Homo sapiens: one gene and its partner. The protein of the gene in region 1 purifies or fractionates together with the protein of each later gene. This does not show direct contact. Each region holds a gene or a part of one and is shown in the gene's direction. Other genes may lie near its edges.

The links.
Region 2: the proteins of CCNY (region 1) and ACVR1 purify together in Homo sapiens (co-immunoprecipitation; one large-scale study listed by IntAct). This does not show direct contact.

Annotation. Positions count from the first base shown.
Region 1 is NC_000010.11:35,570,498-35,573,494, forward strand, and holds the end of CCNY (cyclin-Y), read left to right. Parts: 3' UTR 1-2,170; downstream 2,171-2,997. UniProt on the Homo sapiens protein: Positive regulatory subunit of the cyclin-dependent kinases CDK14/PFTK1 and CDK16.
Region 2 is NC_000002.12:157,738,017-157,740,546, reverse strand, and holds part of ACVR1 (activin receptor type-1 precursor), read left to right. Parts: intron 1-1,976; coding exon 1,977-2,107; intron 2,108-2,530. UniProt on the Homo sapiens protein: Bone morphogenetic protein (BMP) type I receptor that is involved in a wide variety of biological processes, including bone, heart, cartilage, nervous, and reproductive system development and regulation.

The DNA of each region.
Region 1 (2,997 bases):
TTGATGATAGAATATCAAATAGTGAATTTGATATGAAATCTAAGAGTGTGAGTCACTTGCATATGTAATGCTTTGGGTTTTTGCATATTTTCTTAGGTCACAGTGACAGGTTTCTGAGTTGTTTCCCTTTTCAAGTCTCTGGGAGGCCAGTGGCAGCAGCAGGTCTGTGTTTCACCTTCTTCCCATGTGAGCTTGGAAAACTTTGGCATCTTAATTAGTCTTGAATCATACACCTGATCCCCAAACATTGCCTGCTCTCAATGAAACATGCTTTGGAAATGGAAGGGACTCAGAAAGTCGAAATCCCAAGAACTCCAAGCCAAAAGTGTTAGGTTTTAGTGAAATTTGTGTCAGGTATAAGCATACCTGTTTGGGCCAGAATTATTATCACAGCCTTTCTGACCCAAACTTTCAAAAGCAAATAAACAGCATATAAAACGTTAATTATCTTTCCATTGTAATTGTGATGATCTACTCTGTATGGGTACCAAAATCACCTTCTCTCTTCAAGTCAAAGTTGAATTTAGAACTTTGAATACAGGTCAAAAAATGTAGAAAATATCATTTTATATTCCCTAATCTATATAGCTGAAAAAGGGTTGTATTTTCTTAGCTGAATATGAATACCTCTTAAACATAAATTAGTTCCTCTCCAGTGAAGTATCTTATTTTACCAATCCATTTCAGGAAAGAGGTTCTGCTGCCGTAAAGGCAGAAATTTTATTTTTATCCCTTTTATTTGAATGAGAGATTTGAAAATCGAATTATGTAAATATTTCAATGCATCTGCTATTATTTTGTGGAGTTTATTAAACTACTTTAAAAAAATTGTATAGTCTATTTATTGTATGTATGTACATACAGTCTGATACCTAAAATTTAAAGTGGATTCCATAAAACCAGACTCAAGTCTTGTTTAGACTACTGAATACTGTTTTAGCCTGTGCCCTGGATTCTACCTCTGTATAGGAAAATTTTCCATATTCATTAATTAGTGTTGATCTGTATTAATTGGTTATGTTTCTTGCACTAAGGATGTTTAAAACTCCGCTGTAAGTGTAGATTTTAGTTTTACTGGCAGGATGAATCACTTGACACATAGGTAGATACTTGAGGTTCATTTTCTTTTCTTTTTCTACATGATGATGAATAGTTATGTTTTCTTCTCTGATTTGTTCAAAGTTTGCCAAAAGAAAACACAAAACCAGTACAGTACTTACTGATAAATCGTAGTGACTGTAATTTGTTTGTAAGGCGAATTAATGCTCTACAATTAAAGCTGGATTACTATTGAGGAACACATTGTCTTAGTGTAGTTTTTGAATGGAAAGTTTTTGTCATTAAGGATGAAGGAAACGACACAATTTGTTACTTTAATTTTATATTTGATTTAAACAACAAATAAAGTCATTGGGACAATAAATATATATCCCGATGAATCTTTTTGATTTGTTTTACTTTTCTTATTTTTTTTTTTTTAACTAGAAAAAGGGAAAGAAGAAGTCAGGAGTTTAAAACCAAATTGGAGGGCAGATGAGAAATCCTGCCAAGATCGGGATGTGCCTTCATGCATGAGGTGAGGCCAGAGGTGTGGGCACCTGTACCTGCCTCCTCTTCTGGGCTGGCTTTCCTGTCTGCCTGCTCTCGGGCTTGGGCAGAGCCATCTCCATCCTGGGGTTTCCTTTAAGCTAAGCTGAAAGCAAAATTTGGGGAGTGAATGATTTAAACTTTTCCTGCTGCTTTTGGTAACTTCTCACCTGGGGCCATATTTTACAGATTTGAATTTTTTTTTTTCTTTTTTTGAGATGGAGTCTCGCTCTTGTCACCCAGGCTGGTGTGCAATGGTGCGATCTGGGCTCACTGCAACCCCCACTTCCCGGATTCAAGCAATTCTGCCTCAGCCTCCCGAGTAGCTAGGATCACAGGCACCCACCACCATGCCCAGCTGATTTTTGTAGTTTTAGTAGAGACAGAGTTTCACCACGTTGGCCAGGCTGGTCTCAAACTCCTGACCTCAAGTGATCCACCCCCCTCAGCCTCCCAAAGTGCTGAGATTACAGGCGTGAGCCACTGCCCCTGGCCCAGATTTGAAATTTTTTAAAAATAAAACATGATTCTTGGTTATTGTAGGTATTTAATAAATGTTAAATAAATATATACATAGAACAAAGTAGTGCCTGCCTTCCTGCTGTGTTTTTTGAGTTAGTATATTGAGATAAAATTCAACAGGTTTTATGGATGCTGAGTGAACCAGTTCTTTGCAAGAGCAGTGGTAGAAAGTGGTATTGGCCCTGTGTTCTTGAGCGACTCACAAAAGTATGAGAGCTACTCCAGCAATTGAGAAGTTGCACAATAGAGACCTAATAGAACATGTCACTTTCATATTGATACCCCATTTTGTCTGAAACCACTTTATCTCCCTTGATGTCATTGGAGTCAGCATCTTGGGTGGGTCTTAAAGACATTATCTTCTGAAAAGTCAGCCATGATGAGGTCCTACCCTTGTTGAAAAAGAGAAGGAAACAAGAAACATGCTCTTGCACTGAGACAGGAACAGGATACTTAACTTGGGTTTTATATATATATTTATTTTTAAATATATATATATTTTTAAACAGAGTCTCACTTTGTCACTCTGCCTGGTGTGCAGTGGCACAATCATAGCTCACTGTAGCCTCCAACTCCTGGGCTCAAGTGATCCTCCCGCCTCAGCCTCCCTGGGACGATGGGCCTGTGCCACCATGCCCACCTAATTTACTTGTTTTTTTTTTTTTGAGATGGAGTCTCACTCTGTCGCCCAGGCTGGAAGTGCGGTGGTGCAATCTCAGCTCACTGCAACCTCTGCCTCACAGGTTCAACTGATTCTCCTGTCTCAGCCTCCCAAGTATCTGGAACTGCAGGCACACACCACCACACCTGACTAATTTTTGTATTTTTCATAGAGATGGGGTTTCACCATGTTTGCCGGGCTGGCCTCAAACTCCTGACCTCAAGTGA
Region 2 (2,530 bases), on another chromosome or scaffold:
TCTTTCAGAAAAATTGAGAGATGGTGAAGGGCACGTGTCTTACTGTTTTCTGTAAATTCTTGTGACCCTAGAAAACGCATAAAATATCTCTCTAGGTCCATGTTCAGCTGTATTTTAGATGGTGTCTGTTAGTACTGAAAATAATTAAAAGATTTTTGTTTGAATGTTTCCTGGGATCCTTACAGGAGAAGAAGGGCCTCTAAGATGAGGTGTTCCAAGATTTCTGAGAGTAGCAGTTTATACCCAATATGATGTTTATGATTTGCCAGGAAAGGTTTTAATCCACTGACTGATATGCATTTCAAATGCAGTTACACAATGTGGGTAAGTTATTTGGAATTAACTAGTTTTTTTTTTTTTTTGAGACAGAATCTCACTCTGTCACCCAGGCTGGAGTGCAGTGGTCTGATCTTGGCTCATTGCAACATCCACCTCCCGGGTTCAAGCAAATCTTGTGCCTCAGCCTCCTGAGTTAGCTGGAACTACAGGCACGCGCCAACACACCCGGCTAATTTTTGTATTTTTAGTAGAGACAGGGTCTTGCCATGTTGCCCAGGCTTGTCTCGAACACTGACCTCAAGTGGTCCACCCACCACGACCTCCCAAAGTGCTGAGATTACAGGCGTGAACGACCACACCCAGCCTAGATTTTTAAAAAATATAATTTAGACTTGTTTCCATCTCAAATATAAACCTTTATTTAGCCAAATTTGTGAAGTTTTAAAAAGATATGTAGCATTTCTTGAAAAGATGCTCCTTATATCTAATCTTTTGCATAAATGGTTTGTATTTGTATGGAATTTGTAAGGATGGATTCCCACTGTTGAGTAATTTCTGTGATAAATGAAAAGGGAATTGAAGCTTTTCAGGTGGCTTGTAGGAACTAGAACAACCGAATTACAACTTTCCTCACACTCCTTCTGTCGCCTCCAACAACTTCTTAGGTATTTAGGAATAGAAGAAAGTCGCCTGGAGGAAGAAAAGAGAGCAGTAAACCAAGTTATTACCTCATTGTTTGAACCCTTTGTTGAGGGAAAGGAAATAATAGATGTCTTGGTTTTATTTCTATGAAGGGGAAGAATCCATTTTCTAATTCCAAATGATGAAGTTAAAAATTTTTCTGTTTAAGGAGTTGATATAATTCTGCTGGAAAAGAAAAAGTTTCCAGGCCATTGGAAATCATGCAGGGGCAGAAGCTGGTATTAGCTACTGTTCATATTTGCTTTTGGGCAGAGGAAGAGTTCATTATTTATCCTTCTTTTCCTCTGCCTTCCCACATGGCTATCCTCTTTACATTTTATTTTGTGCCTTCAATATGATAGTAAATAATAGAGCCATCAGTCAGACAGCTGTGCCTGTAGTTAGAGGGTACTCAGTACATGTAGAATGAATGAATGAGGAAATGAGTATTTCCTATGATATTATTTGCATCCCTCCTAATGGAAGAGATTAATTTATAGCAATGTTTTTCTTAACAAAATACTTTTCTAACAAAGAAAGGGGTATTTTGATGATGGTCTTGGTTTATTACTCCCTAGCTCTAGTTTGTGGACAACTTTTTATTTCTATTTATGGTTTGAAACCACTAGATTCAGGTACTTTCCATAGGTAGCTTGGGTGGTTTTTATCACCAAAGGAATTTTTGTTCTATGTCTCCAGTGCCCTGTTGGGCGTTACAGAGCTGTTAATATACACTGTTGGAGAATTTTGCTAATAGTTATGATTACATGAGAAGTTTTCACGTATTTCCTTCTAACAATTATCCTTCTTCCAATACCATGCAGGGTGTGTATTTATTGCCTTTTTCTCCCACCTGTTTTAGGACCTACCTCTAGCTTCCAGGACTGCCCTGAGGTATGAGGAAGGTGATTAGTATTTTCTTCTGTCACATTATAACCTGTGACACCCATCAATGAAACCTTGGGGCAACCTGTACTCTCTTGCTAACCGAACACAATTCTTGTCCTTGTGTGCAGGTATAGTGGAGGATTACAAGCCACCGTTCTACGATGTGGTTCCCAATGACCCAAGTTTTGAAGATATGAGGAAGGTAGTCTGTGTGGATCAACAAAGGCCAAACATACCCAACAGATGGTTCTCAGACCCGGTAAGAATGCCAGTTTCTCAGTTTTAGAGCTCTTTTCCATTGTTTGCTATTTGTTTCCCTTTGAGTTTCAACTGGTATTGCATCTGAGTGATCTGTCCCGTGGATCTGTTGTTTTCTCTTCCTATTTTATATAGAAGGGTTTAGATCTAGAAGAGTAAGTTCAGAAAAATACTCCATTCTTGAAGAAGCCATATCTCATAGGGGTTGCTAGTGAATGACAATATTTGTAAGAATTTCTGTGAATATGCAGCTTCAGGAATCGGGAGACTCATGACTACTGCTATTAGCCCTAAGACTGCATGTATAAACCAAGAGACTTTAAGTGAAGCTTTTAACCTCCTTTCCATCTCTGTATATCTGAAATCCCAAACACAAGCTGCTGGATGCTGAAGATCCTGTATTGCTACTCATAAGTAGTAGCAG